Linked DNA regions of Homo sapiens: region 2 is linked to region 1. The links come from fine-mapping of genetic effects on gene expression. A gene starts in region 1. The other region holds a variant in brackets. All regions are shown on one strand. Distances are from middle to middle.

Evidence for each region. PIP is the estimated chance that this variant, and not a neighbour inherited with it, causes the effect.
Region 2: its variant is fine-mapped to the expression of GPR135 in thyroid (GTEx, PIP 0.95).

Annotation. Positions count from the first base shown.
Region 1 is chr14:59,462,437-59,467,816 of GRCh38, reverse strand. GPR135 (G protein-coupled receptor 135) reads left to right here and starts at 2,437. Exons shown (of 1, transcript NM_022571.6): 1 at 2,437-5,380. The coding sequence starts at 2,591. The coding sequence ends at 4,075. It also overlaps a transcript of L3HYPDH not described here. RefSeq lists a silencer at 2,367-2,906.
Region 2 is chr14:59,439,384-59,444,763 of GRCh38, reverse strand. No RefSeq gene overlaps it. Among named protein-coding and RNA genes, the nearest start is that of GPR135, 23 kb to the left of the region's middle. The variant C/A (reference allele first, on the strand shown) is at 2,655.

The DNA.
Region 1 (5,380 bases):
AAGGATGGTTCTACCATATTCTGAGATACAGAGTATTGAAGACCAAGTTTTACCGGGGAAGTAGGAAGAAGATCATGCACCCATTTGATGTGCCACTGGCACATCAAGGAGAGAGATGCCAAGTAGCAGGACATGTAGGTTGGGGCCACAGACATAATTTGAGTAATGAATATATAGATTATCTTTGAAGTCCTGGATGTGAGTGAGATGGGGCCGAGGGGGGAGTCCAGAGGAGCTGAGAACAGGGCTTTGATGAACTCCAGCATGTAAAGGCAGGTGGAAGAGGATGAACTGGCAGAGGAGAGGACACTGAGAAAGATGAGGAAGGAAGGAAGCAGAAGAGTGCAGTCCTTCTGGTCCTTCTGAACCATGCACTTGCTCACGGCCCTCCCTTATGCTATTAGCCCCTCCTCCCCTGATGAAGTTCAGTCTCCAGAGCATGGCCTACAAGGCCCATCATAAGGTAGCCCCAATAAACTTTGATCATTTATTTCCTTCTTCACTCCCCATCTCCAATATCCTAGAATTCAGACACTGCTCACTTCAACACTAACCTCCAGACTTTGCACATTCATCAAATGTTCTTTCCCTTTCTTCTTTTTTTAAAAAGTCTAATGTCACCTCTTGTACAAAGTCTTTGTCAGGAAGACAAATAATTTCACTCACATATTTTTAAGACAATATTTAGCACACTGTAATATACTGTGTTGGCCGGTGGCTTAAGCTTATTTGGGCTGGGTTTCCTATCTTATATGTTGTTTCCTAAAACTAAGCACAATCTGAGAAGATTGTGTTTGCCAAATAAATTAATGTATGATAATTATATTTTTGCTTTGATTGACAAAATTAAGACAAAATCAGTCTAGATTAAGCTGGCATTGACTGCTCCCAAGAGGATATTTGGCAATATCTGAAGACAGTTTTAGTTGTCACAGCTGGGAGAGGTGCTACTGGCATCTCGTAGGTAGGAACTAGGGATGCTGCTGAACATCATACAATGTATAGATGGCCCCTGCAATAAAGAATTATCTGGCCCAAAAGTCCATGACGCTTAGGCTGACAAACCCAGTTTTGGTTTGCCACCTTAAACGTTCTTCTATTTATACTGTAAATTTCCTGTAGGATATTTTTTCTGAATGAAATAAGCACTCCAATACTAATACCATTGATTCTAAGATCTACAAATATACTAGTCATTCTTTAGAGCAGTGTTTCTCAAATTTGTGCATCAGAATCACTGGGAGGGCTTGTTAAAACATAGGTGCCTGGGCCCCACCACAGGAGTTTCAGTAGATCAGGGGTATCCTATGCACTGTAGGCCTGATAATTTGTATTTCTCAAGGTTTCCAGGGGATGTTGATGCTGCTGGTCCAATGTCCATACTCTGTGAACCACTGCTTTAGCGAAGAGCCCAGGGTTAGTTAACCTGAGGGTTTATCACACTTTTCCCCATTAGAGGCCATGCCCAGAAACTTGAGATGCAACTTCCCTGGGTAGCCCTGCCTTTCTTTTCCCCGTATCTCCCAGCCAGGTACCTGGAGCTGCATCTGTGGTGATTGCCAGGCTGGCAGCACCTTAGACTCAAAACATACCCCATTCCTGAGAACAGATGAAGGCTGCTAGCAGGGCAAGGCACCAATCCCTCTCCCCCCATTTATCAGCCAGTAGGGGCCTGAGGTCCAGGCCCTTGGAAATGAAGTAACATCTAAAGGAACTATCCTAGCTCCTCAGAGCACCTGTATCAGAATCACCTACGGGGTTTAGAGTCATGGGCCCATCCTTAGTAATTCTGTCAGCCTGGGAATCTGCATTTTATGAAACTCTTGACATCAGTGCTTCTGTAAGTGTGGTCCTGGGACCAGCATCATCATCACCACCCGCGAACCCGTTAGAGATACAAATTCTTGGGTACTTCCCCAGACATATTCGAAACGCTGGGGTTCAGACCTCGTCACTTGTATTTTAACACGCCCTCTATGTGAATTCTGTTAGCTCAAGTTTGAGAATTACTGGTTTAAATTAGTCTGCTTCTCAAGTTTAAGATGTCTGGATGTAGACTTCTGGATTTTTCTTTCACTTCACTTTCTAGATTCCTTTCCTACCTGTATATACCAAAAGCACCCACAGGAAGCAGAGTGCCCCCCCCACCACTCCCCAAAAGGCCTGCCTGTAGAACATTTGTACCCTACAAAAGAGAGCAAGAGTGAACTTTCGTTGAATCTGGTCATTTGTTTGCATGCCAGTCGGCACTTTATCTGGCCGGACATTGGTCCCTCAGGAGGTCGACCTGGCACTCTCGGAAACCCGAACACCCGGGCCGGTAACCTCCGGAGTGGCGGTGTCGCGGGTCGGCTTTGCAGCGGGTACTGGGCTGCCGTCCCGCCCCGCGCTCCTGCGTAAACACGCGGTTCCCTCGGCAACGCTGGAACCCACGTCAAAGGCTCCGCCAGGTCCCCAGCGACCGCCACCCCTCCGGCCGAGCCCAGCTCCCCGCGGCGGCCGCTAGCCCCCGGCCCCGAGCCACCACTCCGACCTAGCGGCCGCCGCCCCCGGTGCGGGATGAGGAGATCCGCGGCCGCCACTGGGCCCCATGGAGGAGCCGCAGCCGCCCCGCCCACCAGCGAGCATGGCCTTACTGGGCAGCCAGCACTCCGGCGCCCCCTCCGCGGCCGGCCCACCTGGCGGGACTTCCTCCGCGGCCACGGCGGCCGTGCTCTCCTTCAGCACCGTGGCGACCGCGGCGCTGGGGAACCTGAGCGACGCAAGCGGAGGCGGCACAGCTGCCGCTCCCGGTGGCGGCGGCCTTGGCGGGTCCGGGGCAGCGCGGGAGGCGGGGGCGGCGGTGAGGCGGCCGCTAGGCCCGGAGGCGGCGCCGCTGCTGTCGCACGGAGCTGCAGTGGCGGCCCAGGCGCTCGTCCTCCTGCTCATCTTCCTGCTGTCTAGCCTTGGCAACTGCGCGGTGATGGGGGTGATTGTGAAGCACCGGCAGCTCCGCACCGTCACCAACGCCTTCATCCTGTCGCTGTCCCTATCGGATCTGCTCACGGCGCTGCTCTGCCTGCCCGCCGCCTTCCTGGACCTCTTCACTCCGCCCGGGGGTTCGGCGCCTGCCGCCGCCGCGGGGCCCTGGCGCGGCTTCTGCGCCGCCAGCCGCTTCTTCAGCTCGTGCTTCGGCATCGTGTCCACGCTCAGCGTGGCGCTCATCTCGTTGGACCGTTACTGCGCTATCGTGCGGCCGCCGCGGGAGAAGATCGGCCGCCGCCGCGCGCTGCAGCTGCTGGCGGGCGCCTGGCTGACGGCCCTGGGCTTCTCCTTGCCCTGGGAGCTGCTCGGGGCGCCCCGGGAACTCGCGGCGGCGCAGAGCTTCCACGGCTGCCTCTACCGGACCTCCCCGGACCCCGCGCAGCTGGGCGCGGCCTTCAGCGTGGGGCTGGTGGTGGCCTGCTACCTGCTGCCCTTCCTGCTCATGTGCTTCTGCCACTACCACATCTGCAAGACGGTGCGCCTGTCGGACGTGCGCGTGCGGCCGGTGAACACCTACGCGCGCGTGCTGCGCTTCTTCAGCGAGGTGCGCACGGCCACCACCGTCCTCATCATGATCGTCTTCGTCATCTGCTGCTGGGGGCCCTACTGCTTCCTGGTGCTGCTGGCCGCCGCCCGGCAGGCCCAGACCATGCAGGCCCCCTCGCTCCTCAGCGTGGTGGCCGTCTGGCTGACCTGGGCCAATGGGGCCATCAACCCTGTCATCTACGCCATCCGCAATCCCAACATTTCGATGCTCCTAGGGCGCAACCGCGAGGAGGGCTACCGGACTAGGAATGTGGACGCTTTCCTGCCCAGCCAGGGCCCGGGTCTGCAAGCCAGAAGCCGCAGTCGCCTTCGAAACCGCTATGCCAACCGGCTGGGGGCCTGCAACAGGATGTCCTCTTCCAACCCGGCCAGCGGAGTGGCAGGGGACGTGGCCATGTGGGCCCGCAAAAATCCAGTTGTACTTTTCTGCCGAGAGGGACCACCAGAGCCGGTGACGGCAGTGACCAAACAGCCTAAATCCGAAGCTGGGGATACCAGCCTCTAAGACGGTTGGAATGGCCAGCTTATGAAGGCAAATTTCCACTCGCATTATTTAATGATGGAAGATTCTGGGGGAGAGTTGTGGATTTCATAAAGCCAAACATTTAAAGCTAGAGACGGGGGAGGCTTACCACTTTCCCCAAACAACATAAAAGACAATGTCCCTTCTTCAAAAGTGCCAAAAGGAATGTAAAATGCAAAAATTAAAACAATCTTAAACCACATAACCAAGCATTGTGAACTGTAAGTGCCAAAAATGACAAAAATAACATTCACTATAACTGAAAAGCTCATATTATAGGACCACACTGTGAAACAAACAAAACATTGAATGCAACCAGTATTGTTCAACTACACAGAATTTCAGGAATGAATGGAGACCTTCAGAGCTGCTTGAAAGCCCCTCTAAATCGCTACCATCCAACAAAACTTTAGCTTCTAGAGCTTGCACCTCTGACATGCTTTGGGTGCTTAGATTGCAAGTGGAAAAGTCTTATCCTTACACACATTGGTGCACCTCCTCACCCCACCCCCTAATAACCTTTGTGGAAAATTTTTAATTCATAACCCATTTAAAATCATTTTAGGATTTTGAAAAGCTGGTTATTATTAGATAAAATTCAACCATCTGAAGGACAAATAGAAGTATGAACATAAAGAAATGTGTCTTTTAAATGTTTTCCAAGATTATATGTAAAAATTAACATTCCTTCCACCCGCGTCATACCTCCAAAATGATCTTCCTTGGAAAACTTTGAAGTTTTATCCTTACTCTAACCTGTTACTTTTATTTCTGATAAATTTTGGAATGCTGCTCTCAGAATGCTTTCACATTTAAAAAAATATTTTCATTGTAGAAAATTTTTGTCTTTTGAGGTAAATTTGATTTTTGGATATAGCCAAAAATGTAATTTGAAGTCAAGTTGATTGAATAAGGTGAGTGATGCCACTTTATTTAAATTTTTATTATTTTTTAAAATGAGACCTCTATAAAACAACAAGGTTGGGTTTCCTACGTGGCTTTTAGCTAACTGAAAACGATTCCAAAGAGAAATTCTAAAACTATTTTGAGAAGCAGCCTCTTGGAATTAGCGTAGACTTTTCCAAATAGATCATACCCTCCTACATTTAGAAATTTGGTATATTTTGTATTTTTTAAAATAGCTGATGGTTGCTTTATAGCTATGACTTGTCGAAGATAATGTATTTATTAAAGGGAGAATAGGTGTGGGACTATATGTAACGGTATTAAAACACAGGCATAAAGTTGGAGAAGAACTTCAAGCAAACTGAAAATATCTTTAGAAAT
Region 2 (5,380 bases), 23 kb after region 1:
CACAATCTCAGCTCACTGCAAGCTCCATCTCCCGGGTTCACGCCATTCTCCTGCCTCAGCCCCCCCAGTAGCTGGGACTACAGGCGCCCGCCACCACGCCCGGCTAATTTTTTGTATTTTTAGTAGAGATGGGGTTTCATTGTGTTAGCCAGGATGGTCCCGATCTTCTGACCTCGTGATCCACCCGCCTCGGCCTCCCAAAGTTCTGGGATTACAGGCGTGAGCCACGGCACCCGGCGACAAGTACATATTTTCTTGATAGCACTACTACAGTACATCTATTCCCGTTGTGAAGGGGGAAAATTCAAACAGCAGTTCACCTGCAATTTGAAAGCCTGAAATACTGCTGATTCCCCACAAGGAGGCTCCATTATCAAGTACAACAATTTTCAAAGCGGGAATGCCCCAACGATTTTGAAAAGCAACACATCAGAACACATTAAACTTTCATAATCTTTAAATGCTTTAACATTCTTATTGATAACAGTTTGGCTTTAATTATCACATAAAAATTTAATCTATCATTTTTGTGCTATGCAAAGCCAAGACAAATGTATCATATATTAAATACATAATTTAATTAAGCTGAGTATTTAAACAAGGCCGAATTTTTTTCTCAGTGGGAGGAAGGGAGGACGATTGGTGATTATACTAAAAACCAATTTTCTTATGCTTCAGTTATTACATGTGATCAAAGAGTTATCACACAGGTTCAACTTTGGCTTTCTAAGTCAAACAAACAAGCTTTATCTTGGCTAAAATTCTTTATAAGGCAAAACATATTGACTGGTAGCTCATTGCCTAATTGATAACACATATGTCATGGCATTATTTTAATATGACTCTTTAACAATAAAACAGTTAATATTTCCTATTGGATCGTGTAACATCTTAAAATATTGGTAATAACAGTTCCAAATGGTTATAAATGTATTTGAAGTATTTGAACAGGAAATAGAGACTAAATATATACATAAATAATTTGTTACAATTTAGATTTCTTTGAATGCATAATGTTGAAATTAGTTTTTCCTTTTGCATCTTTAATTCTCTGAAAGAAGAACTTAGAATGACTTTTAGTGCTCTAAGCGTTCAATTAACTTTTCATTTAAATTATTTATTTTATATGATGGATGGAATGCATCAGGGCAACTGAGAAATAAGGCAAATTTCTTACATTTGGAAAATAGAGTTAGGCTTGTGATTTGAAAGTTTTAGTTTTCTAAGACTATTCTTTAGAGAGTGGGATTTGGGATGTATCTAGCATTTATTGATTGCCTCCATGAAGTCCTTTGCTCATATTATTTCATATCAATGGGCCGGATATTACTATTCCCCATTGCATAGATGAAGAAGCTGAGACTCAAAGAAAAATAACTTGTTCAAGATAATATAGCCAGCTAAACAACAGCAGGATTGGGATTAGAACCCACAGCAGGGATGGATGGGAAGAGAGGCAGACAAGGGTGGAGGTTTGGGGATCTGAGAGTGAGGAGGAGGCAGGATGAAATTAACAAGGGTAGAATCTTTTCTGGGAGTTCACAGAAGTAGTAATTTATATCCCTTAGCATGCCTCCTTTATCCCTATCAGGCCCTCTGCGGCTGGATGAATCTCTGTTTTTCCAGTCAGTTTGAATCTTAGCATCAATATTATATTTGAAATGTAAGAGTGAAATTGCCTTTCTGTGACATCTTTTTAACTGATTACTGGGCACTTAGGCAACCAGCTCCCGAATGTCTGGTTACTCTTAATAAAGGTCAGGATTGCACCTAGCTAGCCTCACTAATAGAGGAGACCTTGTGGCCATCTTTCATAGCAGCCTGAGGCAAGTTGTCATGAATTCACTGAAACTTGCTGATTTCCCCTGTGCACCTGAAAGAACCTGGTTCCCTTAGTGATGTCCATTCAGCCTGAATAACTCTACTGCTTCCCCTCTGCCAGCACACCACCCACCCTGTCAACGATGGTGAAAATCTGCAACCTCTTGTTTACCTTCATGTGTGGGGAGCCTCTCCCATCCTTCTCACAAGGATATAAGGAGATTGCATTCTAACTTGCTTTGATTACTCTTAGCTTACATACAGAATCACCTCTTTAGAGGAAAGGGAAGTTTCTCCCAGTTCTGTCTTTGGAAATGGGAGATTGGTCTTGGAGTCTTAGACTAACACAGATAGATCATTAATCACAAAGACTGTCTCTGGAAACTGAAAAAGGTCAGATTCTCTTAGAAACTGTGGGATGGGTGTGGTGGTACATGCTCATAATCCCAGCACTTCGGGAGGCCAAGGTGAGTAGATGGCTTGAGTCCAGGAGTTCAAGACCAGCCTGGGCAACATGGTGAAACCCCATCTCTATGGAAAAAAAAAAAAAAAAAGTTGGGTGTGGTGTTGTGTGCCTGTAGTCCCAGCTACTCAGGAGGCTGAGATGGGAGGATTGCTTGAGCCCAGGGAGGGTGAGACTGCAGTGAGCCGAGATCATGCCACTGTACTCCAGCCTGGGCAATAGAGTGAGATGAGACCCTGCCTCAAAAAAATAAGTAAATAAAATAAAAATGAAAAGAAAGAAACTGCACAATAAGACAAGGGCAGGGTGGAGAGTTTGTTTTAGTTACACAAGACACCCATGCAACACGACAACACCCCTTTAAAACATA[C/A]AAAGTCACATAACTTCAGAATTTCAAGATTTAGTTAAAAAAGAAAAGAAAGGATGGAAAATGTGATACTGTATACATTTTCTGCTGTCTTTGTGCTACTGAACATTCTCTAATGAATGTCTCCTAAACATCTTTCTGTGATCTACTTTGAAAGGAGAACAGAAGGGAGGGAAGAACAGAGAGGAGACTAAAGAGAGATAAGGAGAGGGAAGGAAGAAGAGGGGGCTAAGGAGGGAGAGAAGAAGATAAAGAAAATTTACAAAAGAAAGGAAGAAGGAGAGAGAGAAGTTGTTTGCTATTGTGGCATATTAGGTGAGCAATGAACACTTTGTGCATTTATTCGTTTGACACACAGTTATCGAGCATCTATTATGTGCCAGGCTCTTAGACCCCGGTTGAAAGCAGTGAAACAGATAGTTGTCTTATGAAGCACATAGATTGGGCGAGTCACAAAATTTTTTAAATAAAGTAAATTAGGTTGCAAATACACTCTTAGTTCACTTTATTTTTACATTATTCCTCTCATCCTCCATAACAATGCCTCTCATTCTACTCATAAACCCAAGTAATATAAATGAGCCACTCTAGACTATTAAAATATACCATTGTCTCAAAAAATGTTTTTCAATGTAAGCATATTTGTACTTTTGCTTTCTTAATTGGAGCAATGTTTTTGTATTACTGCGTGTCTACACATTTTTTAAAGAGCTGATAAAAAGATGTTTGTTCATTTCTATATAGTCTACTCAATCAGCCTATTTGCAAAAATTTTCCTGAAAAATAGGTAGTGGAGAAAAGTCAGGGTCAAGAGTGGATTTTATTCTAAATCAATATTTGGGATAAATGCAAACAAAAATAATCAGAAATTAAACAAAGAATATTGGATTTAACATGAAATGGATAACCTGACAGCCTCTTCTAAAACAAATAAAATACTCTTGTGTATCAAAGCGCTTAAGTCCATAACAGAGGTGAACTTGAGGTCAATGCTGTCAAATAATTTCTAAGTAGTTTCCAGATTTTTTTCTTTTTTTTTTTGCCTTTGGTGCCGAAAAGGCTAATCAACTTTATGTACTTACAACTTACCTTCAATTTATCAAACTGCAGGTATAATAGTCAAAATATTCAACAACCAATATGGTATGAACACAGATGCTGCTTCTATATCTTAAAATGTATTTTTCAGCATCCTGGCTGAATAAACATCCTCCCTAATTATGGGGAAAGTGGTATGTCATTAGCATGGAATGAAGTTCCCCTCCTGATCCATTAAAAGTTAAGCTACTCCTTTCACTAATTTTGTCCTCAAATAGTATAGCTCACATGCAAAAAGGGGAGAGGACATTCCTCCTGAACATATTCTCTGCTTTTGGAGAACTTCTCAACCTTTCTAAAATATTGTATTGGTATTCTGGTTGTTGACATGATGTGGAAAAGATGTAGAGGATACAGTTGGAAAGAAATGTCAGTTTATTTAGTGCACATTGAAACATCAATAGTCGTGCTGTGAGACACAGAGCAAGAGGTTGAAGTGTGGACTGTTAAGTGCTGGCTTCCACAGATGTGAGAACCTAGCTATGCTTTGGGACTGCATTTCAAACAACCCCAGGTTCTGTGGGAGGCAGGACTGCTGTTCCACAATGGGGAAGGAGAGAATAGGTTTGCTCCATGTGATATACTGGGGCATCTCTTAGTGTTCGCCTGTCTAAAGTTGACAGTGAAGGAACAGTGCAGATCATTGGCCCTAAGGAGGGCATAGTGAGCAGGGCTTCGATGGCACAGTAATGAGGGCCTGGGTCACCCCTATGGGCAAGCCACCCGGTCTAGTGGAGGTACCAGCCAAAAGTAATGAGAATTCAAAAATTGAATATTAGTTGCAACTCTGCAATCAGGTGCAGCAGTGGGGATTATACTTCATTCCACCAACTTTCCTTTTGTAAATTTCACTGGAAAAGAGACCAACCAAAAGGAAGCAGGTGGTGTGACTGTTTTATACAAAGCAAATGGATCTGAGCAGTTCAAAGGGTGCACTGAATGGATAATGTGGTGTCTTGCTCAGATACCTGCTTCAGGACCAAGGCATTCATTTCCCCAGCTGTCAGAATTATTACCTGTTGATGGCTCAGAGCAAATCCCTCACCAAGAATTGCCCTCAGGTGAAAGGAATTTCTTCACCCAGCATTATGACCACTCCCCAGGTGCAGCCCACATCCAATGACTGGTCAGTGTGGTGATATACAAATCAGGCCCCCTTGCCTTAATTTGGAACAACTCAGAAAGGCCAGCGTAGCTTCCAAGCTCCAGTGGGATTAGCTGAGATGTTTTTTTGCAATTACATCACAATTCGACTCTTTTTGCTCAACCCTGGTTCCTTAACGTCTCACAGTTTTTATCTTGAGACCATTGCACAATAAACTTCCCATACACAAATCTGTTTCTCTATCTTTTTCCTGGGAAATATGACATAAGATAGTTTCCTATTAAATATTTTTAAAATATGTAGGAAATGTATGTTTGTGACATCTTTTATCAAAAATATTCTGGAAATATGCTATGCTTGAGTTTATTTTAACTAATTTAGCAAACCTTAGTAAAGCAAATGTAAAGATTTAGCAACGGAATAATATTTGGCAATTAGCTGTAAATCACTGGACAGGCATTTAAAGCATGCTATTTGGATGGCTATGCTTCATTTTTAAGTAATTCATATGTGTTCAGCCAAATCA